4 linked regions of the Homo sapiens genome follow. The protein of the gene in region 1 interacts with the protein of each later gene in a biochemical or structural test. Each region holds a gene or a part of one and is shown in the gene's direction. Other genes may lie near its edges.

Region 1 (7,040 bases):
TTTTCCTTTCTAATATATTAAGATTCTATTATGTGTTGTTTTTTTTTAAACCTAGGTTTTATTTTTCCTTTTGAAATGGAGTCTTGCTCAGCCGCCCAGGCTGGAGCAGTGGTGTAATCTCAGCTCACTGCAACCTCCACCCCCGGGTTCAAGCAATTCTCCTGCCTCAGCCTCCCGAGTAGCTGGGAATATAGTTACGTGCCACCATGCCCAACCATTTTTTGTATTTTTAGTAGAGACGGGGTTTCACCATCTTGTCCAGGATGGTCTCGATCTGTGGACCTCGTGATCTGCCCAAAGTGCTGGGATTACAGGCGTGAGCCACCACGCCCGGCCAGGTTTTATTTTTTAACTCTTGAATGCAGAAATGTTAGTGCTTACTGGTTAAAATAGAACATAGTATTTATATATTACTTTAGTGCTTTATTGAAAATATCGGAGGTGGGATAAACAGAGAGATAGGGTTGGAAGGAGAGTTTGTAGCAGCAGTGTAATTTCTGTGTCAGATTCTGGCCAGGAGTGAAAATGCAGGGCATTAATTAGTATCTCCCCTCATGGATTTCTGTGGTTCCTTTCTCGGTTGTCCTTAATGTTAGGTGCCCCTGGGCGCTGGGATTGCTCTAGCCTGTAAGTATAATGGAAAAGATGAGGTCTGCCTGACTTTATATGGCGATGGTGCTGCTAACCAGGTAATTATGTCTCTTAACTTCCCAAAAACAGTCTTATTTTCAAAGTCTTTAATATTTACAGTTGAATTTCTAAAGAAGTAGCATATTGCTTATTAGGTGAAATAGCAAGTCCTATGGCTAGCTCAAATTTGGTTGACTTATGGCCAGATTAGAGATTGACCTCTTAGCGTTGTTTCACAAGAGACTTACGGGGGCACATTCCTGTGAAGGAGCTCACCTTTGCTCTACATCAGTGCTTGGCAAAGGCCCTGTGGTAAAGGACCTCCCCACAACCTATTGCAAAACAATACAGACCCATTCTCTTGGATGTCCGGGCTGGCAGTGTCAAATTCGGATAATAGCGTCTGAGTCCTAACTCAGTTTCTATGCTTCTCTTGTTACCGAGTAATCCCCAGTCTGTGGCCAGCACTCTGTGAAGCCCTGTTCTAGAGGCTGATTCTTAGGTGCTGGTTCACTCTGGCTATCCAGTGGGCCTGATAGATTTCATATTGATCTTTTTTCCAGTGTGTTCCTTACTGCTAGCATGGCCCCAAAGAAACAAGTAGTAGTTGGTTTGTCACCTTCCTTAGTTGCAAGAGTATGATGCCTGCTACTTCTCCTCCACCACCCACCCCGCTTTCCCTCACCACCCAAAGCTCGGTTTTAGAAGAGGAGGCTTTCTGTGCTTTATGAAAGCTTTCTGTGCCAGGCAGAGCAGCAGCTGTTAGAGATGATGAAGCCTGGAGAAAGAAGCCAAATGAAACCCCTTTTCGTAACTACTTCCAGGGCCAGATATTCGAAGCTTACAACATGGCAGCTTTGTGGAAATTACCTTGTATTTTCATCTGTGAGAATAATCGCTATGGAATGGGAACGTCTGTTGAGAGAGCGGCAGCCAGCACTGATTACTACAAGAGAGGCGATTTCATTCCTGGGCTGAGAGTAAGGACACCTGTGGTGGGGCCGGGGCCAAGGCCAAGGCCAAGGGTATGTCCTTGTGCAGACCCTTGACGATCTTAGAAACATTGGAGAGTTTCATTCTCATACAGGAGCAGGTCATGTGAAAGTAAAATGGTTTGGGGCAGTTGGATTCATGCTTCGCCCCTCCCCTGTTTATTACCAGGTGGATGGAATGGATATCCTGTGCGTCCGAGAGGCAACAAGGTTTGCTGCTGCCTATTGTAGATCTGGGAAGGTAAGGCTCTAAAGCCCTCTGGGCTAGTGACATTTATCTCTGGAAGTTCAAAGACTGCCTCCCATGTGCCTGCTGAAGCTGTTAGTGGGTACCTGCTAATTGAGGTGCATGAGATGGAAGCAGAGTGAAGGGAGCAGGGCTCCTTTGGGTAGCTTGGTCTTGGTAGCTCACCTGCTGGGAAGCCTACGTTTCTCTCATTTGGGGGAAGTCCGTTCTGGTGCTTCCTCTGCTTTGGCCTGTCTTCATGACAACTGATTTGCCTTTTCCTTAGGTTAATTCTGTCCCTCCTCCCCACCCCCCATTAATCATGAGTCCCTTGAAGGAACAGATTGGGGATCCCCACAGTGTCCAGCATAGAATGTCATGTATACAATAGGCATTTAATATGTGTGTCTTATACAAATTAAACAGTATGGTAGAAGCTCGTAATCTTAGTCTTGCTCAGTCCTAAGGATCTTTCCCTTTTCAGTGTATGGCAGTGAGGGAGATGGTAAGAGGGAGACTGGCCTAAAGAGGTTTCACTTCCTTTGGCACTAGTATAGGCTTAGGAGGTTTGGGTGTTCTCCCTAAATCAGTGTTCTACAGCCCAGAAACAAGGTTTCTGAAGTTGGCACTTCAGCGCCATACCATGTACGTTTAGGCAGTGATGTGAATCAGATGTGGCCAGCAATGATGGAAATGTCACAAAGTGGAGAGACAGGGAAGTGAGGGTGGGAATGTAGTAACATTAAATAAGAGCTAATGAGTAGAATGAACTAGAGCAGGACCAAGACTACAGCTTGGGTACAATGGGCTGAGCAGTCTATGTCAGGACCCTAAGGCTGGGAGTGCCAGGCCCTGAGTGATGGGTATTGACGCCACCTCTCCCAATTCCTGAAAAGAATACATGGGGGCCAGCCCTGGCTGGAGACAAGGGGAGTTGTAGAATGTAGTTGTAGAATGTGTGACTTTCCCAAACAGATAACCTTCACAATTCTGAGTTAGGTGTTATTGTTTTGCCCATTTTGCAGACAAGGAAACTGAGCCATAGAGCAGTTAAAGGTACACAGCTACTCTGTCTTGGAGCCAGCTCCCCACTCGCCCATTTTAACTGCTGCACCAAACCAACCAAGGATCCTCAATGTTTCTCCACCCCAGTGTTCAGAGCCGTCTCCTGGAAGTGGGCTAGTGTAGAATGAGCGAGCCCAACTGTCCAGACTCCCAGCAGAGCCTTGGGGTTTGGGTAGCAGAGGTTGTTGGTGCCTGCCAACTTTGTTACACACTAGCAAGGTCTGTGAAGTAGGAGTGGCTGCCAGCCCCACAACACACCATGAGAAAGGAGCATGAGATGGAAATCTGTCTAGCCAATAGCAGGAGGCTCTAGAACATGCTCAGAGCCTTTTTCTTTTTTCACAGGGTCTCGCGCAGTGGCACACTCACAGCTCACTGCACCCTTGACCTTCCAGAATCAGGTGATCCTCCCAAGTAGCTGGGACTACAGGCGCACGCCACCATGCCTGGCTAATTTTTGTATTTTTTGATAGAGATGGGGTTTTGCCATGTTGTCCAGGCTAGTCTCGAACTCCTGGGCGCAAGTGCTCTGCCCACCTCAGCTTCCCAAAGTGCTGGGATTACAGGCATGAGCCACCATGCCTGGCCTTCAAAGCCTTTTTGATTCAAAACAAGCTGTTGGCAGATTGCCTTATTAAAAATGAGAAAGATGAAATATGCAATCAATACTTGCTAGAAATGAGAACAGATCAGTCAACCAATAAGAAATTCGTGACAACTCAGAAGATCTGATAAGACTACACTGGACGCTTAATAAAGGGCCTGCGTTTGAGGCCGTGGATTGCCGGCCTGTTCTTCCAGTCATCGTTCCTAACTAACTAACTGCCTACCGGTTCTGTTTTAGGGGCCCATCCTGATGGAGCTGCAGACTTACCGTTACCACGGACACAGTATGAGTGACCCTGGAGTCAGGTACGCTCATGGGCAGTGTGGTTTCCATAGGGGTGGGCTTTGAATGGTGTTACATGGCAAAAGCAACACATTTCAGTATTTGCTTTTGGAGCTAGATACCAGTTCACTTCATGTACGCAGTTGTGTTGGGCATCAAGTTATCTGAAAGCAGTGCCTCCTAATAAGAAAGCTTTCTGAAAATGCCTACAGTGTATAGTGTGTGTGAGCACAAGCAGCAATTTTTAAAGAAAGAGTGTTATATACCTTAATTGTAGAGGGAAATTGTTACATAAAACAGGGCTGATGGTAGTGTAGTATCTTGGGGGCATTTAGCTTTTGTAGGCATTACCCCAAGTCTACACCTGGCATACTCTACCTGAAGAGGATCAGAATTTGGAGATGTTCCTCTGTCTGGTATAGAGCTAAGGGTAACTGGGTGTTCAATCCGTTGAAATACATCAATCAAAAAAGCTAGGTTCCACTAGGAAGGCATGAATTTTACTTTTTTGCTTAGTAGCTCTGGCCTGTGATTCTGGAATCCCAGTTTTGACACAGTTGAATAAATAAGCCTTTGTAGAGTGGACTTCTAAGGAAAAATCATGTAGAGAGCACAGTATATGGAAAAATGCACTTTGTGTAAATCTATTGTTGAAAATGGTAGAATCCTTTTAGTGTTACTTCAGATGATATAGGCATAAGATACATTGGTTTTGCTGGCTGTGCTTCTTTAGGGGGACTTAAGGGAGAAAGGCAAGGCACATGGATTTCCTGCTTGGCGCTCTGATGTCTCAAAGTCTAATTATCACCACACACACCATCTCTGCTGTCCCCACCCATGTAGTATACAGGAGCCCAAATGGGTGGGACAAGTGACACTTCTTTAGAACCTTACATCTAAATCAAAGCAGCAAGCAAAAACTTGGCCCCTGTTGTCGGAATGCCAGGGAAGCCATGTGACTCACCAGTGTACGGTTTTCTAGAAAAGACAGAAGCAGTTATTACAGAATGTTAGGCTGCGTTCTGGTATTTTGAAAGTATAACAACAACTCTGCCACGCCTATAGTGACATAAGCATTGGTATGCCCCTTTGTTTCAGAAACACACTTCTGTATTTCACCTCATTGGGACAATCCAACCCCATATCATGTTTCATCACGCCGTCCTTGCTCTACTGGAACTGCTCTTACTGATCGATTACTACTTTTCCCTCCCCATAGTTACCGTACACGAGAAGAAATTCAGGAAGTAAGAAGTAAGAGTGACCCTATTATGCTTCTCAAGGACAGGATGGTGAACAGCAATCTTGCCAGTGTGGAAGAACTAAAGGTACAGTCACTTGTTCATGGTGGTTTGAAGGTTGGCTTTAAAAGTTGCCACCCCTGGGTGGCCACAGAGTTTGTGTGGGTTCCTCCAAGCCCAGAAAGTGATGTCCTGGGACATAAATAGTTCCATAGTTCCAAAGTCCCTTGGGGTGGGGGCTTTTCCTTTAGTTTCCTCTATTCAAAATTGTATTACTCTTCAGATTTCAGATTTTGGTGGACTGTGAACCACCATCACAGTGGCAAAGCCCCCACAGTAGTATGGTTCTTTTTTCCTAAAAGTATACTGTGGATTTTTAATTCATAAAATAGATACACCCTAGAAATCTGTATTCCAAAATCTTCTGAATTAGCAACTGTTCGTACTTGTAGTTAAAGAGTTACACCAGCAACAGGTCCTCAGCAGAACTCTAGTTGGTACCTAAGCTGCTGTTCATTCTAAAACCTTTTACACTGTTACCTAATTTTTAGGAAATTGATGTGGAAGTGAGGAAGGAGATTGAGGATGCTGCCCAGTTTGCCACGGCCGATCCTGAGCCACCTTTGGAAGAGCTGGGCTACCACATCTACTCCAGCGACCCACCTTTTGAAGTTCGTGGTGCCAATCAGTGGATCAAGTTTAAGTCAGTCAGTTAAGGGGAGGAGAAGGAGAGGTTATACCTTCAGGGGGCTACCAGACAGTGTTCTCAACTTGGTTAAGGAGGAAGAAAACCCAGTCAATGAAATTCAATGAAATTCTTGGAAACTTCCATTAAGTGTGTAGATTGAGCAGGTAGTAATTGCATGCAGTTTGTACATTAGTGCATTAAAAGATGAATTATTGAGTGCTTAAAGATTATTTTTGACTTAAAATAGTATACTTTGAACAAATACTCTAATTATGAAAAGGAAGAACAATTCCTTGTATGCCTGTTTCCCCTGCCCCCAGCCACCTTTTTGGGAGGAGACCATTATGGCGGGGCCCCTCACAGCATTCTACCAACCATAGCACCCACCCCGAGCAGCGCTGGTGCTGCAGCCTGTTCGCGCTGACCATTTCTCTACAAGATACAATATTTATTATCAGGCAAGAGGACAGTTCCATTTTAAAATAAGACTTTTGTAATCATTCCAATTTTGTAATCATTTCAAAGGCCACATAACTTAGTTTTCTCTACTTACACATTCAGTATAAATATGAAGCTATTTTCTGTTCATATCAAACATTAACTACAAGGCACATTCGTATCAGTTTTGTGTTTCTCAAATTGAAGTACCATACCAGTTCTGAGGCAGTGTCCCAGCTTCCATGTTTGTTAAATACCCCTTGTTTGTTTCACCATTCCAGCAAGTGCTGAAGGGTGTACTTTTTTTGAGACAGGGTCGGGCTCTGTTGCCCAGGCTGGAGTGCAGTGGTGTGATCATGGCTCACTGCAGCCTCCACACCTCCTGGGCTCAAGCAATCCTCCCACCTCAGCCTCCTGCATAGCTGGGACTACAAGTGAATTTCCTAATATTCCGGGAGGTCAAAACCAAGGCTCACTGTTTTCACAATACACACAGTTCTATGTTTATAAATAACAGGTTTCAAAAGAAACTCAGGACAGTATTTAAAACAAGTTCTTAAACTATTAATTGAACAATGGCATTTTTAAATATGTAAACACAGCGGAATTCGTGTATACACTAACAGAAGCTTTAACAAAACATGTAGCGTGGTGGGACACTCTGCCACAGCTTAGCTGATTGGTATCAAGCCTTGTCTTTGGTTTCTGAGGCCTCCTGAGCCCTTCTGTACTGGGAGACCGCACTCCAGAGTCTGCAGAGGAGACCACCCCTGGGAAACAAACACAGCTGTCTTCAGAGTCAGTGCTTCAAGCCAACAGAGCTTAAAACTGCAGTCCCTAATTTAAAAACCTAATGAAAATAAAAACATTC
Region 2 (4,853 bases), on another chromosome or scaffold:
GTGCTCACAAAGAGGAGGCAGGAAGGTTGGATCCCTGATGAGCCTTGGAACGGAGGTGGGGAAAAGCAAGGATGTGTGGAAACAGCAAGAAGTGGGAGAGAGAGAGAGAGGCGGAGGGGAGAAAACCGTCACGGAGGCCAAGCGGCAGGAGCTCAGCTGAAGAAATGAGATTGGTGGTGGGTTTTCCCTATATCGCAGGCTCTGACTGCCAATCTGCTGCTCCTCCAAGGCCTCGGTGGCTGTGGCATGAAACATCCTGAGGAGCTTGTAAAGTGGACACTGTGCCCCTCACGTTTGGCCCATTTTTCAGGTGGAGCCTTTTGCCAGCTTGACCGAGGCCGTGCGGAGCTCAGTTCCCCGACTGCTCATCAACCGGGACTTGGTGGGGCCCTTGGCTTGGCATCCTCGCAGCAGGGACGTGGCCCAGCTGGGGGACGTGGTTCACGGCGTGGAAAGCCTAGTGGAGCTTCTGGGCTGGACAGAAGAGATGCGGGACCTTGTGCAGCGGGAAACTGGGAAGGTACAGACTGCTGAGGAGGACCATCCAAGGGGCTGCCCTTCTCACTGCTCTAGGGTATGGTCCACCTGATATGGAGCCCCGTTGGTTAACACAGTAACAGTAATAGCTGATGATGCTGTGAATCCTGCACCAGGCACTACCTGGACCTGACTGGGTGTTACTTTCAATACCTCCATTTAGAGATGAGGAAACAGATGCTAACAGGCCAAGCAGGGACACGGTCCAGACACTCAGGGCTGATGAGTCTGTATTCTTAACAGACTATAGGCGTTACCTTCACTCCCTAAAATAAAGCAGCCAACAGTGTCCCTCTAAGGCCTGGTATGTGATTCTAAGATGATACGGGTTAAAGAACTTTGAGAAGCTAAAGTTCTCTGCATCTATGTGGGATGAAGGCTACATGAGTGATGCTTTTCGGAAGTAATTGGTATGAGAGCCATTGATCAATTATAATCCGCTGAGGAAAGCCAAAGAGCCTTGATGCTTTCTAAGAGATTTCAAACCGCCTATAAACAAGTGAAGTTACAGAAAATGCAGTTTCCCATAAGAATCATGTAGCATGTGTAGCCTTGATATTAAGGGTTTTCAATGGGAGGTGGTAGCATTAAGCATTTAAAGTCCAGTGTCATGATTACAGGCAGGTGTAACACTGTCCAAAGGGGATTTCACCAGTGTATTAGTCTGTTCTCTGGCTGCTCATAAAGGCATACCTGAGACTGGGTAATTTATAAAGGAAAGAGGTTTAATGGACTCACAGTTCCATATGGCTGTGGGGGCCTCACAATCATAGTGGAAGGCAAAGCAGGAGCAAAGTACTGTCTTACAAGGTGGCAGGCAAGAGGACGTGTGCGGGGGAACTGCCCTTTATAAAACTATCAGATCTTGTGAGACTTATTCACTATCAGAAGAAGAGTGTGGGAAAGACCCGCCCCCATGATTCAGTTACTTCCACTTGGCCCCACCCTTGACACATGGGGATGATTACAATTCAAGGTGAGATTTGGGTGGGGACACAGCCAAACCATATCAACTACAATATATCACAGTTGATGCTCCTCTTGCCTTCCAAGGCAGATGTCTTAGGAAATCCTGATCCTTTTTCCTTGTCCACAGCTGTGGCTGCCTCATGGCTCAGGGCCATGGGGTCAGCACTCTCCTCACCTCCACCAGTCCAAGACCTCCAACCTCTGGTTGCAGGCTGATTTTTTACCAATCATGGTCACTTCATTATGGAGGCAGGGAACCCAGCTAACAATGAGGCTTAAACGCTGAGAGGCGAGTGCCTCCTGGCCAGCTCACAAGGCAGCGGAGATCTTAGATCAGCCCAGCAGGCTTTTTTGAGGGATCCTTTTCCTGCTCCAACTTCATATTTTCTTTTTTTTGTAATGGAGTTTCACTCTTGTTGCCCAAGCTGGAGTGCAATGGCACGATTTTGGCTCACTGCAGCCCTGCCTCCTGGGTTCAAGTGATTCTCCTGCCTCAGCCTCCTGAGCAGCTGGGATTACAGGCATGTGCCACCATGCCTGGCTAATTTCTGTACTTTTATTAGAGATGGGATTTCATCATGTTAGTCAGGCTGGTCTCAAACTCCTGACCTCGGGTGATCCACCTGCCTCAGCCTCCCAAAGTGCTGGGATTATAGGCATGAGCCAGCAGGCCCGGCCCAACTTCCTGTTTTCATAGAAAAGCAGATTGTAACTCTGGTAGCTCCTGTGGAGTTTTGGAAGTGGCTTAATAGGATTTGAACTGTATAATCTAGTTTCAGAGAAATGTATGTAAAATGGGTTATGATTTCATTTTCTGTTTTTTACAGCATTACTATCCAAGGGGTTACTTTTCCAAATAGTGAATGCTTTTAAGCACATGAGCATCAGTACATATTGATTTGGGTACTTTAAGACCCATAGAATGAGGCTCTCCATTTAGCCACCCTGTTCTGCCCAGGCCTGCTGGGATCCTCTTAGCCCAGCACAGCAGCAGCAGTATTTGCAGAAAGCAGCTTGTTTTGTGAAATATTTTGCATGTCTGCAGCTAGAGCTGTTTGAACAGAGATCTGCTGGCCTGCCTGGGTGTGTAAACAGATAGCTGATACCCTCTGTCTTCTGTATTCCAGCTTGATGGACCAGACAAATAGGATGATGGCTGCCCCCACACAATAAATGGTAACATAGGAGACATCCACATCCCAATTCTGACAAGACCTCATGCCTGAAGACAGCTTGGGCAGGTGAAACCAGAATATGTGAACTGAGTGGACACCCGAGGCTGCCACTGGAATGTCTTCTCAGGCCATGAGCTGCAGTGACTGGTAGGGCTGTGTTTACAGTCAGGGCCACCCCGTCACATATACAAAGGAGCTGCCTGCCTGTTTGCTGTGTTGAACTCTTCACTCTGCTGAAGCTCCTAATGGAAAAAGCTTTCTTCTGACTGTGACCCTCTTGAACTGAATCAGACCAACTGGAATCCCAGACCGAGTCTGCTTTCTGTGCCTAGTTGAACGGCAAGCTCGGCATCTGTTGGTTACAAGATCCAGACTTGGGCCGAGCGGTCCCCAGCCCTCTTCATGTTCCGAAGTGTAGTCTTGAGGCCCTGGTGCCGCACTTCTAGCATGTTGGTCTCCTTTAGTGGGGCTATTTTTAATGAGAGAAAATCTGTTCTTTCCAGCATGAAATACATTTAGTCTCCTCAAAGGGACTGCAGGTGTTGACATGAGTTGGAAAGGGAACCCTGGGATACGTGGCGTCCCCTCTATTGGAACAGTCTGAGGACTGAAGGCATTTGTCCCTGGATTTATTGGAGACGGCCCAGCTCCTCCCTCTGAAGGTGGTCACATTCTGTTGACTCTCCATACTCAGCCTCTCCTCCAGAAACAGATCTGTTCCAGAACATTCCAGCACTTTCTATCTGGCCTCCTTGTCCCCACACTACGCCCCCCCACCCTCGCCAGGGCTTCCTCTAGTGACACTGTTAGAGCTAATCTCTGAGACAGGGAAGGCATTACTCACTTAAAACCCAGGCTGAGTCCTGGCCACCTGCTGGATTGTGACATAGGAGGTGGAATCCACTGAACTGCTACTTCTGCACAGGCTCCTTCTCCTGGGGCTGTACCCAGGCCCAGCCCTGATGGCTCACCCTGTCAGGCACCAGCTGCTCCCTCCTGGGCTCTCACCCACCTGCACATCCTCCTTCCTAGCATCACATTACCTGCGTGTTTCCCCAGACAAAAGCACTTCCCATTCTTGAACCTTGCCTACCCTGGGCTGAGCTGACGGCAATAGATTTAATGACAGTGACTCCCAGGAAGGGGGTCCTGTGACTTTGCGCCTTAATAAGAACAAAAGGTGGAATTGGTGACCTAGGAAAACTGTTGAATTCTAAAAAGAATGAAGTTAGTTTCTAACCCTAGTTAATGTTCCTTTTTTATTTTTTGAGTCTTGCCCTGTCACTCAGGGTGGAGTGCGGTGTTATGATCTCAGCTCACTGCAACTTCCGCCTCCCGGGTTTAAGCGATTCTCCTGGGTAGCTGGGATTACAGGTGTGTCCCACCACACCTAGCACATGGGCATATTTGTAATAGAGACAAGGTTTTGCTATGTTGGCCAGGCTGGTCTCGAACTCCTGGCTTCAAGTGATCCACCCACCTCGGCCTCCCAAAGTGCTGGGATTACAGGCATGAGCCACTGTGCCTGGCCCCTTTATTTGATAATTTACACATACATTTTTGTCCAAAACTCTTCTTTATTTCAAGATGATGTTTCTGTGGCTATGTGTGGTATGTGGTATAAATCTCAATCTATGGTCACACGAGGGGCATTTTCCTTGTTGTAAGTGTAGTCTAAACCAGTAGGAAGGAGGTTTAATTGCCAAAACCAGCGAGAACTCGGGCACTGTGGATACTACAGTGGGCAGCTGAACGAGGACCAAGGAGAATGTCTAAGAGGCCTCCAGCCCTGCGCTCAGTGAAGACAGGACAGGAACAACAGAGCATACATACCTTGGAAGGGTGTGTTCTGATATACTCGTATGGAAAGTTCTGACAGGTTTTCTCCCTGGGAAGTGCAGCACATACCCCAACACACTGGCTCTGCCAGTGTGCCAATCCCAGATGGTGCTTGCTTTGTGTGCACCCACACCCAAACCCCTGCCCTCCCATATGCTCTTCTGTGTGCCCAGGTAGGCCCTGCCCTCAGGCAGCAGCTTCTGAACACATTCCTCTTGGCGCAGACAAAAGAAAGTACTTCGTCTGTGGAATTCGAGGCTGAGCCTGAGTTCTAGCACAAGAAGACCGTTGCAGTCCAGAGATGAGAAACTGGACCAGAGGCAAATCATGAAC
Region 3 (7,040 bases), 5.1 Mb from region 1:
AGCACTCTTGCCATTTCAGGCCAGGTAATTTTGGTAGGAGCTGTCTTGTGCACTGTGGGAAGTTGAGCTACATCCCTGGCCTCTACCCACTAGATGCCATGAGCACCTCCCACTCCAAGTCGTGACAACCAAACATGTCTCCAGTCATTGCCAAATGTCCCCTGGGGGAGCAAAATGTCCCCTGGACTTCTGTTGAATCACTGTTTGGAAGTGTTTACTTGAGTGGTTTTCAGGCCAGGGCCTCATACTCTGAATTTTTGTTGTAAATGGTCTGGGGGTGCTGGGGGTGGAGAGCAGAGCACTGGTATTTTTAGGAGATCCCCCTGTCATTCTAAAGCATATCCAGGGTTAAGCACCATTAATCAGATGATCTTCTGTCTGATCTGCTGGCCCCCTTTCATCTATGTGCAGTATTTTTCTCTATGCTTTTTAAAATAATGAAAGTTTCTTGAACTCCATCTTGACTTGAAATATAGCCTGCCACACAGTTAGCAAATATAGCAAGAATAACAAGTGTTCTAAATGGATTTTTAATTTATTATGGCAATAGTACATTCCAAAGGGTGGCATTTTTTAAAATGAGATTTTTCTTTTGGGCCTAAGATTACAGTCACATGGTTCCAAATTCAGAGGGTTCAAAAGGACACAGAAAAGCCTGCTTCCCACTTGTGCCCACTGGCCTCCCCTTTTTTCGCATAAATGGCAGTTTATAGCTTTGTCTGTTCCTTGTTTTTTGAGCTTAATACCTTAGAGACAGATTTTTGTATATCTGTACCTGCAGAACTTTGTTTTTCTTTTTTATGGCTTCTGAGAATTTGGTTATATGAATGTACCAGAATTTATTAGCAACTTTCCCTATTGATGGCTACAATTAATAGGTTGTTTCTAGACTTTGCTGTGGCAACCTGCCCTCCAGTGAATTATTATATGCATTGTCATTTCATGCATGTCCGCGTGTATCTGTAGGACAGATTCCTAAACGTGAGATTGCTACATCAGCAGGTATGTGCATTTGTAATTTTGGCGAACATTGTCAAATTGCTTTCCATAAAGGTTGTTTGTTTTCCCCCTCGCTAGAAGTTTCTGAGAGTACCTGTTTTCCTATGCCTTCACCACATTGTTGTCAAACTTTTGATAGGTAAAAAAAAAATGATATATCTAGATAGAATTTTTTTCTCCTTGAGTAAAGATGTCTTTATTTTAGTTTTTTATTGTGGAAATTAAAAAAAAAAACTTAGGTGGGTGCCTGTAATTCCAGTGCTTTGAGAGGCCAAGACAGAGGATGGCTTGAGACCAGGAGTTTGAGGCCAGCCCTGGGCAACATAGTGAGATCCTGTCTCTAAAAAAAATAATAATAATAAATAAATAAGATTAGCCAGGAGTGGTGGTATCGCACACCTGGGGTCTTAGCTACTCAGGAGGCTGAGACAGGAGGATGGCTTGAGCCCAGATTGAAGCTGCAGTGAGCTGTGTTTCTGCCACTGCACTCCAGCCTGGGGGATGTACATGTATAGGTAAATACATATATAAATTTTATTGTGTATAATTAAGGTATACAACATGATGTTATGGGATACATATAGTTAAAAGGTTACTACAGTGAAATTAACATATCTATCATCTCACATAGTTACCCTTTTTTATTTTTGTGGCAAGGTCAGCTAAAATCTACTCATTTAGCATGAATCCCATATACAGTACAATTTTATTATCTATTATATATTCTTCATGTTGTGCATTAGATCTCTAGACCTTAAACATTTACAGAAGTAGAGAGAATAGAATGATGAACTCCTGGGTTTGTTTTATTGATATCCATTTGCTATTTGTCTGTAGATGTTGTATGTGTGGTCTGTTAGATTTTCTGATCAAAGTCATGCTTGTTTCAAAAAGATAAATTTTTGTTTTCAAAAAGATAAATTTTTTTCTTTTCCTATGCTAAGACTAATTTATCTTTTGAATTATCTGGTTCTTAAAGATTTGGTAGAACTTCATATGAAAGTGTTTAAGCCTGTATGTTTTGGGGAGTTTTGCTCTCTGATAGCTTTCTCTATTCTGTGTTATTGATCTCTGTAGATTTTCTGTCTCTTCTAGAGTCCATTTTGATATATTTTTCTTGAAAATTATCCTACTTGGCTAGGCGCGGTGGCTCATGCCTGTAATCCCAGCACTTTGGGAGGCCAAGGCAGGTGGATCACATGGGGTTGGGAGTTTGAGACCAGCCTGGCCAACATGGTGAAACCTCGTCTCTACTAAAAATACAAACATTAGCTGGGCATAGTGGTGGGTGCCTGTAATCCCAGCTACTGGGGAGGCTGAGGTAGGAGAATTGCTTGAACCCAGGAGGCGGAGGTTGCAGTGAGCCAAGATCATGCCCTTGTACTCCAGCCTGGGTGACAAGAGTGAAACGGCATCTCAAAAAAAAAAAAAAAAAAAAAAAGAAGAAAAGAAAAAAAGAAAATTATCCTACTCATTGAGGTTTTTAAGTCAGTTTGGATAGCTGAGATAGTTGTCACTGAACAGTCTTAATTTTCCCTGTGACATTTGTCCCCCCCCTTCTTCTTGAGTAGGTTAGTTGATGATTTATTGGGTTGGATTTATTAGTTTTATGACTTTTGTTATCTAGTTTATTGTCTGATTTGACTTTAATAATTCCTTCTGGTCTCAGGTTTATTTTGTTCTTTTAAAAATTAGGTGCTTTCTGTTCTCACTCATAAGTGGGAGTTGAACAATGAGAACACATGGACACGGCAAGGGGAACATCACACACCAGGGCCTGTCGGGAGGTGGGGGGGCTAGGGGAGAGATAGCATTAGGAGAAATACCTAATGTAGATGACAAGTTGATGGGTGCAGCAAACCACCATGGCACGTGTATACCTATGTAACAAACCTGCACGTTCTGCACATGTACCCCAGAACTTAAAGTATAATAAAAAAAATTAAATGCTTTCTTCTTTGTCTTGTTTATTTCAATGTTTAAGGTTAGTTATTCCTCTGAGCACTGCTTTAGCAGCTGATGTGTGTATTTGGTCTTTTTTCTCTTAGCTCTTCTGTGTCTTCAGGTTTTTATTTTCCTATGAATGAAGAGTTGTTTGGAGGAGTTAAAAATTTCCAGTGAAGGTGCATTCTGCATTTTAATTTTATTTATGTCTAGTTTTGTTGCACTGTGATTACAGAATGTTGTCTGAATTATTCTCTAATTTATTGATGTTAACTTTGAAGCTCATTATATGGTTGTTTTCTGTGAATGTTCCTTGGGCAGCGAAAAGAAGGTTATACTCTCTTCTCAGGTTGCAGAGTGTGATATGTCAGCTCTGCAATATTATGTTATTTAGGTTTTGTGTAACTTTACTTTTTTTATCCACCTGATTTGTCATGGATCAAACACAAGAGAAGTTAAAGTCTCCTAATAATGATTCTCTTTCTCCGTATAGCTCCTATTGTTTTTGCTTTATGACTATCAGTGTTATGTTTGATGCTTATTAACTCACATCCTCATTGTGAGATATACCCATTAGCATTAGAGTGCTGCCCTTTTACTAGTTGAAGGCTTTTTGGCCTGGATTCGTCCTTATTTGACATTGAGATCTAGTTCCCTATTTTCTTGTTTACATTTCCTGGGATAGCATTGCCATCCTTTTATTTTCAGTTTTTCTGAATTACTTCGCTCTAAATATGTCTCTAAATGTAGTGTAAAGTTGGGTTTTGCTTTGTGAATCAGTCTTTTTCATGTGGTAAGTTTAACCTATTTATACTTACTGGTATGATAGATCTGTCATCTGTAATGATAAGCATTTGTAATTTTCTGTTGCTTTCTGTTTTTAATACCTCAGTTTTCCTATGTTATATATTTGCTTTGTTTTGCCATATTTATTTTAATAAATAACTAGGCTTGAATTTTTGGTTCTAGTGGTTATCTTTATAGTTATTACTTTATTTCTATAGACCTTTGTCCCATATGGGTCACCACTTGTCAGCCAGGAGACCTTTGAGCACTTGAAATGTGGCTAGTGTGGCCGAAAAACTGAATTGACTTAATTTAAATTTAAAATGGATACTTGATGCAGTTAATTTTTACATCTGTGTAGAATAACTTGGATATGGAATCCACTTTATCACCTGTAAATTTTAGGAAATCTCTTTATAGGTCAATTATTTCTGATAGAAATTTAGCCTCTGAATTGAGATGTGCTTTCAGTATAAAATACACACTGGATTTCAAAGACTTAATATAAAAATAGTAAAATATCAGTACATCTTATATTGATTGCATGTTGAAATGGTAATATTTTAGATATGTTGGGTTAAATGGAATATTATCAAAAACTTTATTTCTTTTTTATGTTAATGTGGCTACTAGGAAATTTTAAATTATATATATGGCTTACATATTTCTTTCTTTCTTTTTTTTTTTTTTTTTTTTTTTTTTGTGAGACGGAGTTTTTGCTCATGTTGCCCAGGCTGGAGTGCAATGGTGCGATCTGGGCTCACCGCAACCTCCGCCTCCCAGGTTCAAGTGATTCTCCTGCCTCAGCCTCCCAAGTAGCTGGGATTACAGGCATGCGCCTACATGCCCAGCTAATTTTGTATTTTTAGTAGAGATGGGGTTTCTCCATGTTGGTCAGGCTGGTCTTGAACTCTCGACCTCAGGTGATCTGCCCACCTCAGCCTCCCAAAGTGCTAGGATTACAGGCATGAGCCACAGCCCCTGGCCTGGCTCACATATTTATATTGGACAGTGTGGCTTCAGATAATATATGTTAATTCCTTATTGGGAGCAATGAAAACATCACATTTTAATGTTCAGAATAAACATTTATTGGCTGGGTGCAGTGGCTCACGCCTGTAATCCCAGCACTTTGGGAGGCCGAGGTGGGTGGATCACGAGGTCAAGAGATTGAGACCATCCTGGCCAACGTGGTGAAACCCCGTCTCTACTAAAAATACAAAAATTAGCCAGGCATGGTGGTGGGCGCCTATAGTCCCAGGTACTCGGGAGGCTGAGGCAGGAGAATTACTTGAACCTGGGAGGTGGAGGTTGCAGTGGGCCAAGATTGCGCCACTGCACTCCAGCCTGGCTAGAGTGAGACTCCGTCTCAAAAAACAAAACAAACAAACAAACAAAAACAAAAAAACCAACCACACATTTGTTGAATTTATTTATTTATTTATTTACTTATTTGAGACAGAGTCTCACTCTGTCACCTAGGCCAGAGTGCAACGGCTTGGTCTTGGCTCACTGCAACCTCTGCCTCCCGGGTTCAGGTGATTCTCCTGCCTCAGCCTCCCGAGTAGCTGGGATTACAGGTGTCTGCCACCACGCCTGGCTTATTTTTGTATTTTTAGTAGAGACGGGGTTTTGCCCTATTGCCCAGGCTGGTCTCGAACTCCTGACCTTAGGTGATCTACCCGCCTCTGCCTCCCAAAGTGCTGGGATTACAGGCATGAGTCACCGTGCCTGGCCTGAATTTATTTCCTGAAATATAACTTTCACATGTCTTGTTCCATATTTTTTTCTATAAACCTCTCTGGATTTTTGGATCAATGTATTGTTTTTGACTGGCAGTTAATGTTATGGTGGCTCCTTGTTATATTTGCACAAATTTGAGTTCTCTTTCCCTTAAGCAGTTGTGATAAATTAAAAATTCTCTTAATTATATAAGAAAAGGAGAACTTGGACTATTATGGCATAAAGATAGAACCTTCTGAATGTTGAATGAGTTGGTAGGAAATGATTCACATTTTCTTTTGGACTTGCTTTTCATCTTTCAGTCTCGCCCTGTCGGCTTCTGGTTCCCATATTAACCACTTTTCTCCCCTCCCTGCAGACTGACGTCCCATTTGTTTGATTTTCCAGTTACTTTTGCACAGCCACACTTGCATTAAAGAGATTTTGCTCCTGCCTCCTTTTCTTAGATTTTATCCTCAATTGTCTCTTTCCAAAGGGCAGGCGCTCACCTCTTTTTTGTAACCTCTTACAGCTTCCTCAGCTCAGCTTGCTCTGCACAGAGCAGGTGCTCCATAAATGGCAATTACTGATGGCATGCCTGACTCCATATCGAGGTTATTAAACATTATGCCACTTTCATTTAGTCAGTTATATAAGTTTATTTTATTTATTTATTTATTTATTTATTTATTTATTTATTTATTTATTTTGAGACGGAGTCTCACTCTGTCGCCCAGGCTAGAGTGCAGTGGCACCATCTCGGCTCACTGCAACCTCCGCCTCCCAGGTTCAAGCAGTTCTCGTGCCTCAGCCTCCCGAGTACCTGGGACTACAGGCATGCGCCACCACGCCCGGCTAATTTTTGTATTTTTAGCAGAGACGGGGTTTCACCGTCTTGGCCAGGCTGGTCTCGAACTCCTGACTTCAGGTGATCCACCCGCCTCTGCCTCCCAAAGTGTTGGGATTACAGACGTGAGCCACTGTGCCCAGCCAAGTTTAAACTTCCATAGTGTCCCCATGTGTAAATATAGCATCTCTCAAAACCACCAGAAAGCAGATTGCTGATAGCCCTGCCGTCTTTTCACAAAACTAAATATTTTGATTTCTGTCATAATCACACCGGCTCTGTGAACCTCAGAGCCTTTAGCTCTTAGAAGGTAGCGGCCAGTTTCCGCATTCTTACTATTCTTAAAGTTTAAGGGCCCAGCCATCTTCTTTTCCTTTAGAACATATTTTAAGATACTTTGGAGATACTTTGGTTCCAAATGACTCCCTTTCGCAAAGTCTTGGCTTTTTAAGTCATTTTGCTCCTTGAAGCCTGATCACCACTGGGGACAACAGTGATTGCGTTCTTGGAGAAAATGGAAAGGTTTTTAAAAAAATTATGTTAGGAAAAGGGAAAAACAATCTCATTCTGCTTCCGAGTGTGTTTATTTTGTACCTTTACATATGTAAATGACAGATTTTTTTTTTTTTTCCCTGTAAGCAGTAGTTTTTCTGCTACAAGGTGTCACCAAGAATTAGACCAACCTGTTTGGAGAAAGGGATCAACTATTCAGAATTAAAGGGGAAGAGAAAAATTTAGTTGA
Region 4 (7,508 bases), on another chromosome or scaffold:
TGCAGTGAGCCGAGATCGTGCCATTGCACTCCAGCCTGAACGACAGAGCAAGACTCTGTCTCAAAGAAAAATAAAAAGATTGATGGAGGTGACACTGGCCCCTGCTCTCAGGAATCCTCTCATCTAAGGGTCAGTCATAGAGATCCAGAACAGAAGATGAGGGGTAAGCCTTGGGAGACCTGGATGAAACCCAGAACGCCTTCTTGGAGGACAGCGTGCTGACCCTGGGGAGGGACGAGCAGGCAGAGGTGGCAGTGTGCAGGGTCGGGAAGAGGTAAAAGCTACTCAGCTGTAGGAACAGGCAGTCCTGGCAGGCTGTGGAGGGAGGCTGGGTGCAAGGGTGGAGAGAGGAGAGCCCTTAGTCGGGCTGAATTCAGGTAAGAGCCTGCTTTCCTGCCTTGGTTTCCCCACAACCACCACCAGACGCCAATAAGAGATCAGAAGGTAAACCACTGATCCAAGGCTGCAGAGACTGAACTGTCACAAGGTCCAGCCTCCAGGAGCTGAGAGCTCTGGTCTTTCAGAAGCTCCTTGGGAGTGTTTGAGCGCCTGGCTTACATGGCAACAGCACGTGGATCAAGCCTTCGCTTTGCTTCCTGCCATGTCCTGGGTTCCCAAAGCAGCTTCCTCCTTTGCCCTCGGTTTGTCCCCTCCACACAGGCCTGGGGAATGGAGTAAGGCTGTTCCCCCTGTGACCTGGAATGTGGCCTAGGTCCTTCTGTTAATTTTCCTTAAGGCTGTGAACTTTGGCAAGACTTCACTGGAGGCTGGAAATTGCTACCCAGAGAAGCGCAGAGGTAGAAGCCAGGTCAGATATGCTCAGAGCTCACAGACCCAGGCTGTTCTGGGAGACCCACCTGATGCCTGGGTGCCTCCCAGCCTCCTTGTGGTGGCAGCTGCCTGCCCCACCTCCCTCCACCAGCGCTCAGCTCACAACAGGGTTCTGGGCCCAATGTCCGCCCCTTTCCCTCTCCTCACTTTCTGTGCCGGGATTTGCCCCTTCCCAGGGTGACTGACAATGGAATGTCCACTTTCCCAAGGAAAACCCTAGCCCCTACCCGGAGCTGCCAAGCTCTCAGAACCCAGTGAATGGAGACCACACTTTATTTTCTAGAATCTGGGATCCAGTTCTTTGGGCATAACATGTGTGGGTTGTCAAAGCTCGGCCCAGTCTTGTCCTTACAGCCACTTCCTGCTTAAGACAGGGGTGTTGACACATCCCTCTGGCCAGTTTCACAGACCCCCTAGTCTCCTGTGAGCCACTGCTTGAGGAAGACCCCCCCCACACACACACACACTCTTGAGGATAGGTCATTTTCAGAACTAGCGTGAGCTACATATTATGAAAGAAACATAACTGGCAGAGATATAGCAATGCCCACTGTAAAAGAACCCTCTGCAATGCCAAGTTTCTTGAGCTCCTTGGAGAGTCCCCCCCCACCAACCCACACTGTACATATAGTGGGAGATTTGGGAATCGGTGGGGGTGCAGTTTACCTCGGCATCACCTAACCAAACTTGACTATGATGTACCACATCACACCACTGCTGTTAGCACCCTGCAGCAGGCTCTGCAGAAAGAGTTCTTATCCAAGCACAGAGCCCACATTATGGAAGTCCAGCCTAAGGTGAGGGTCATGGGAAATCTCTTTCCCTCTCCTACACCTAGCCTTAGAGGCCACGGCCTTTTCCTTGTTACTTTAATTTTGACAATAACAGCAATAGCTACCATTTATTGCTAGGCACAGAAATAAGCCTTTTTTTTTTTTTTTTTTTTTTTTTTTGAGACCGGGTCTCAGTCAGTTACCCAGATTGGAGTGCCGTGGCACAATCATGGCTCTGGCTCACTGCAGCCTTGACCTCTGGGGCTCAAGGAATCTTCCTACTTCAGCCTCCCAAGTAGCTGGGACTATAGGTACATGCCACCACACTCAGCTAATTTTATATTTTTTGTAGGGACAAGATCTTGCTATGCTGCCCAGGCTGGTCTCGAACTCCTGGGCTCAAGCAATCCTCCTACCTCAGCCTCCCAAAGTGAGGGCCAGGTTTTTTTGTACATAATATTCTATATATTATTCTGTGCACTTGAAAACTGCACTCACCAGCATCATCAATCACGTCCTAATTGCTAGCCCAGTGGATGTTTGGTGGTTCTCTGGAATATCTCTGTGGTGTGCTCCTCTGCTTGCCCTGTCTTCTTTTTCACCCTGTCCTCCCTACTAGGTGCTGAGTACTGCCTGATGCTAGAGATAGGGCAGTGAATAAGACAGATACAACCCCTGCCCTGCCCTCACGGAGCTTAAAGTCTAGCGGGAAAACAGATCAGTTGGCAAACAATTTTCACTCAATTGATAAGAGCTACCATCAGCTCCTTTTAACCCCTCCTTCCTGGATTTGTCCAGGTAGCTTTCAGCCAATCCCTTTCCTCGACGAGGTACCTGTTTCACATGTCCTGATCTTTCCTTGTCCTCTCTTAAGGGGTCTTGTGGATTCCCAGTCTGGATGACAGTGACCCAGACTGCGAATATTTGCTAAGACCAGGAGATCTAAGGAGCCCTTGAAGGGAGCCTATAACCCAGCTTGGCAGGATCAAGGAAGGCTTCCAGGAGGAAGGGATGACTAAGCAGCTGAGACCTGAAGAATGGGCAGGTGAAGGTGGGAAGAAAGAATGATCCAGACAGAAGAGATGCATTTGCAGTGGCTTAGAGATTAGAGGCTGGTTCAAGGCAGCAGACAGGTATGGCTGGGAGCTGCATGGGGGAATGTAGAGAGAGGAGTCTGGAGAATTAAGCAAAAGTCAATCGACTTGTGACAACTGGAAAGGCTCCAGTAAGAAGAAGAGAGCCATTGATGGCCTAGCACAGTGCCTCATACCTGTAATCCCTGCACTTTGGGAGGTTGAGGCGGGCAGATCACTTGAGGTCAGGAATTCAAGACCAGCCTGGCCAACATGGTGAAACCCTGTCTCTACTAAAATTACAAAAATTAGCCAGGCATGGTAGTACATGCCTGTTATCCCAGCTACTTGGAAAGCTGAGACAGGAGAATCGCTTGAACCTGGGAGGAGAAGTTTGCAGTGAGCCAAGGTTGTGCCACTGCACTCCAGCTTGGACGACAGAGGGAGACTCAATCTCAAAAAAAAAAAAAAAAAAAAAAAAAATAGCCCATTGAAAGGCTGTGAGCAAGGAAGTAATAAGGTCAGATTTGCAGTTGAGAATGATCCCTGAGTCTCGGTTTTCTTATCTATGAAATGAGGCTAAGAATAATAAAATAGAGAATTAAATGAGATAATGCCTGTAAACAGTGCCTGGCATATAGCTTATTATTCATCCAGCTAAGAGGCCCTTCCATATGTGAAGCTTTGCTCTGTGAGGTCTGTATTACAATCACATTCAGTTATAGCTAATTATTTACTTATGTAGCTATCTCTGAAACTTAGAAATGAAATCATCGAGGAAAAAGGCCATTTCTTGATCCTGTCTGTGTTCCCTGTTCCCAGCATAAAGCCTAACACGTATTAGGCTAATGTCACCGAGCAAAGAAAGCATCAAAGTGGCGGGTCGGGCCCTAAACCCACGATGGGAGATACCACATTCGGCCACAAGAGGGCGCGTCACATTTTCTCCAAGAGAAGCTGGGCCGCTGATGAAGGACGGGCTCCGGGCCTCCCAGAGACACTTCACCTCCTGGGATCTTGCTCTAAGGAAGCCCGGTGCGAAGGAGGTGGCTTTCTCAGGTGGTCGCGCTAGATGTCCAAGGCTTTATGTTCGGTCAGATGAGCTGTATAATAAAATGAAAGTGTTAACTGGCATGGACGATAGCTGCTGCCTCCACCGCCACTAGTAGTGATGGTTTTTACTCTGGATGTTTTTCAGTTGGAAAAGCAAACTCCGCCTTTTCCTGAGCCGCTTGGATCTTTGTGGAAGCGGGTGGGCTGCATATATACAGGACGGATTCGTATAGGCTTGCACCCTGGTTCCGAATTTTGCAAATATTCGCAGTCTGGGTCACTGTCATCCGGACTGGGAATCCCCAAGACCCGTTAAGGGAGGATAGGTAACGATCATGACAGGTGAAACAGGTACCTTTGAGTTGGAGAAAAGGGATTGGTTGAAAGCTACCTAGACAACTCTGGAAAGGAAGGGTTAAAAGGAGCCTGCAGGTGAAGGAGATGCGAGGGGGTAGCAAGGGAAAGGCAGGCGTGGAAGAGGAAGCGAAAGGGCTGGCGGGGCTCTGGGAAGGAAGGGGTTAACCCGGGCTTCGCCCCGCGGAGGAAAGGGAGGAGTGAACACAGGGGAGGTGGGAACTCGGCGCGGCCTCCCCAAAACAACAGGCCGCCCCGGCAAAGCGTGGGTTAAGGGGGCGGGCCCGGGGGAAGCCACGTGCCGGGGCGGAAGGCTATTGGTTCGCCCGGAGTTGTTTGTGAGTGGCCATTGGCGACGTCGAGGCGCCATGACGAGCCGATTGGCTGGGCGTTGGAATGCCCGCCAGGGCAAGGGTAGGGAGGAGGCGGCCGAACCGCGTCGCTGGGCCGAAAGGTGCGCGAGCGCTGCCCGCGCGGGGACCACAACCAAAGTCGCGGCCGCCGCAGCCATGCGCTGGGTGTGGGCGCTGCTGAAGAATGCGTCCCTGGCAGGGGCGCCCAAGTACATAGAGCACTTCAGCAAGTTCTCCCCGTCCCCGCTGTCCATGAAGCAGTTTCTGGACTTCGGTACGGAGTGGGCGGGAGGCGGCTGGCAGCGGAGGCCGGCGGGGCGCTGGGAGGGGCAGCCGGGGGCTAGGGGGACGGAGGAGAAGAAAGGCCCCGAGTGACAGAGAAGGGTTGTTTGGAAAGGTACAGGCAGGAAAGAGTTAATGGGGAAGCAGGAACCGGCCGGGGCCTCTCGACGGGGCTGCTGATGGGAATGGGGGGCATTTACAAGGACGGTCCCGAGGTTTCTTCGTGGGCCTCATGAAGGGTCTTGAAGAGTAAGGGGCAGTGAAGCTGTGATGTTACTGCAGGAAGGGAGTAGGGTGGTATCCAGACGCGAAAGGGTTAATGGGAGTTGTCCTCATGACTGGAGGAGTAGGGGCCCCTCCTCCCACCAGAGGAAACCGGGGGTCTGCTGGTGGGAGTGAGGAGGCAGGGTTTAGAGGTGCAGCCATCTGTAGAGAGACCTGGACTGGGCATGAAGGGTCAGACACCCCTGGGCAGAGGGTGAGATTAAGCCAGGGGCAGTTGGGGAAGGGGGCTCTTTCAGAAGATGCCATTGGGAGACAGTGCCCTGACTGGTAGACATCCACCCACAGAAGGAGCTGGACCCTAGCTGCCCCAGTGGGCAAGGACACTTGAAGATCAAATCTGTTCCGGCCTGGCAGCCTCTCCCCAGCTGGGCAGGGGCCCCAGGCACCGTGATGTGGAGTCAAGCCGCCTATACCTCCCTTGGCTGCCCCAGGGCTGCTAGGTCAGGATCGCCCACTACCAGCAACCTGGGGGTGGCCCTGGGGCAGGAGGGAGGCTGTGCCAACGTGGCAGCTGAAATGGGCATTGTGTGGGCCCTGTCTGTCTATGTGGTATTTCCATGGTGCCAGCTGGGGACTGGGGGTGGGGGGCAGTCTCTCAAGAGTTGAGTTGATAGTGCCTAGCTTGGGTTGCAGCTGCGTCAATGATGGGACGGGAACAGAGAGGTGGCAGCCGAGACATAAGGCACCTGTTCCTCAGGACTTGTCTGCCTGCACCCCTGCCCTGCCTGAGTCTTGAGCCTCCCCCATGTAGGAAAGCCTCCTGGGCCCACCCCTAGCCCCCAGCAGCTGTCCCCACAAACTGCACCCTAATTACAGAAACATCACAGCTGTGAGGGGCTCACAGTAGAGTTTGGTCAACTTGTAGTACTATGGGGGAAACTGAGACCTTCAAAAGGATGATGGCATGGCCTGGGTGACAGAGTTGGAAGCAGAGCCTGATGGACTGGAACCCAGGGCCCCTGACCCTGGGCCAAGGCCATATTCGGTCCCCCACCCTTTCCATCTTGACACCAGACAAGGACCGAGGCATTTGGACTCCTGTTCTCAGGCCCGTTTGCCCCATGGATGGGCATTAAGACACAGCAGCCCCACATGGGCATTCAGGCCAGGCTGGGTGAGGTGGGCTGGCCAGAGACAACACTGGGAGCCTGCAGTGGTGGTCTAGCCATAGCCCCCCTCAGCCAGAGCCCAGTCCTAGGTAGGGATGGGTTTCCCAGGCTCCTTTGTCCCCTGGAATCAGCCCCTCAAAGTGAGTGTGCTGGGAGGGAAGGAAAGAGAAGTGAGGTGACTGAGGCCAGAGGCAGCTCCAAATGGGCCCAGGAGTGGCCCTGTCCACTGTGGTTAAAGGCAAGCAGGGTTCAGCTGGGGATGAGGAGAGGATGACACCTCCTGAAGTGTTAGGCATGGGGTGTAGGTGTTTGAGCCCTGCAGGGGATGGGGAGCCTTGCTGTGTGCCCCGGGCAGGTCACTTGCTCTCTGAGCCCCCTGTTAATGAAGGGTTTAGCTGACCTGGCCGAGACATCCTTTGGCTTTCATAGTCTGTGGCTCTGTGGCTCACCCCTCTTTCTCCTGCCAGGATCCAGCAATGCCTGTGAGAAAACCTCCTTCACCTTCCTCAGGCAGGAGCTGCCTGTGCGCCTGGCCAACATCATGAAAGAGATCAACCTGCTTCCCGACCGAGTGCTGAGCACACCCTCCGTGCAGCTGGTGCAGAGCTGGTGAGACCCCTGGCTCAGTCCCTGCACCTCCCACTCCATCGCCAGTGTCCCTGGGCTCAGGGATGGCATCTCCAAGCTTTTAGCAGCTTTGAGGGTGGGGTGGGGACAGACAGGAGACACCAAAGCCCCAAGCGCTTGGAGTTGCCTAGGGTCACGTGGGAATCTGAGGCCAGAGCAGGACTGAGGTCAAGCTCCTAGTCTCTGTGTCTAGCCCTCTTCTTACCACCCACCTTTCTCTGGAAACACAGGATCCACCTAGGAAAGCATGGTTTTCACAGCCAAAACCCCAATTCAGGCTGATGTCAGCATTAGCCAGCAGCCCAGACCTGGAACTCCAGTAACTGTTAGGCAGTATTTATTTGGGGGTAACTTTTTGGGAAGCAGAAACAAGAAGTAAGTTTTCAAATACATTATATAACCCAAGCTGCAAGACAGACTGTTTTGGATGTTGGAAAATACTCAGATACACACAAGGATGGCACAGTACCTTCCCGAAGAGCTTTGGAGGGGCAAAGACCAAACGTTTATTGCGCACTGCAGCAGGAACAGAGGGAAAGGCTCAGCAGAGTTCACTCAAGAACTCAAGTTAAGTAACTGGATGAAATTAGCCAAAGGCCAGTCACGTGAAGAATAAACAAGGGTGTCCCTTGTCACTGGGCATGTAAATAGCTAATCCTCATTGACTTTGGTGGCACCCTTGCAGAAATCTTGGGCTGGTTCTTTTGGACTTGCAGTATGATATAGTTGTGATTTCCCTGTAGACTGAGGAGCACGTGCCCACATGTA

Evidence for each region.
Region 2: of the proteins of PDHA1 (region 1) and SIRT3, one has a biochemical effect on the other in vitro, tested with the Homo sapiens proteins (one study listed by BioGRID).
Region 3: of the proteins of PDHA1 (region 1) and PDK3, one has a biochemical effect on the other in vitro, tested with the Homo sapiens proteins (one study listed by IntAct).
Region 4: of the proteins of PDHA1 (region 1) and PDK2, one has a biochemical effect on the other in vitro, tested with the Homo sapiens proteins (one study listed by IntAct).

The regions. Positions count from the first base shown.
Region 1 is NC_000023.11:19,353,895-19,360,934, forward strand, and holds part of PDHA1 (pyruvate dehydrogenase E1 component subunit alpha, somatic form, mitochondrial isoform 1 precursor), read left to right. Parts: intron 1-596; coding exon 597-689; intron 690-1,454; coding exon 1,455-1,610; intron 1,611-1,791; coding exon 1,792-1,863; intron 1,864-3,757; coding exon 3,758-3,825; intron 3,826-5,021; coding exon 5,022-5,130; intron 5,131-5,594; coding exon 5,595-5,759; 3' UTR 5,760-6,854; coding exon of another isoform or gene 6,855-6,939; 3' UTR 6,940-7,040. Other genes in the region: MAP3K15 (mitogen-activated protein kinase kinase kinase 15), read right to left, coding at 6,855-6,939. UniProt on the Homo sapiens protein: The pyruvate dehydrogenase complex catalyzes the overall conversion of pyruvate to acetyl-CoA and CO(2), and thereby links the glycolytic pathway to the tricarboxylic cycle.
Region 2 is NC_000011.10:214,499-219,351, reverse strand, and holds the end of SIRT3 (NAD-dependent protein deacetylase sirtuin-3, mitochondrial), read left to right. Parts: exon of another isoform or gene 1-310; coding exon 311-520; coding exon of another isoform or gene 521-574; intron 575-2,633; coding exon 2,634-2,654; 3' UTR 2,655-4,322; downstream 4,323-4,853.
Region 3 is NC_000023.11:24,468,271-24,475,310, forward strand, and holds part of PDK3 (pyruvate dehydrogenase kinase, isozyme 3 isoform 2 precursor), read left to right. Parts: intron 1-7,040. UniProt on the Homo sapiens protein: Inhibits pyruvate dehydrogenase activity by phosphorylation of the E1 subunit PDHA1, and thereby regulates glucose metabolism and aerobic respiration. Can also phosphorylate PDHA2.
Region 4 is NC_000017.11:50,090,843-50,098,350, forward strand, and holds the start of PDK2 (pyruvate dehydrogenase kinase, isozyme 2 isoform 1 precursor), read left to right. Parts: upstream 1-4,508; 5' UTR 4,509-4,593; coding exon 4,594-4,711; intron 4,712-4,852; exon of another isoform or gene 4,853-4,968; intron 4,969-5,289; exon of another isoform or gene 5,290-5,444; intron 5,445-6,580; coding exon 6,581-6,722; intron 6,723-7,055; exon of another isoform or gene 7,056-7,508. UniProt on the Homo sapiens protein: Kinase that plays a key role in the regulation of glucose and fatty acid metabolism and homeostasis via phosphorylation of the pyruvate dehydrogenase subunits PDHA1 and PDHA2.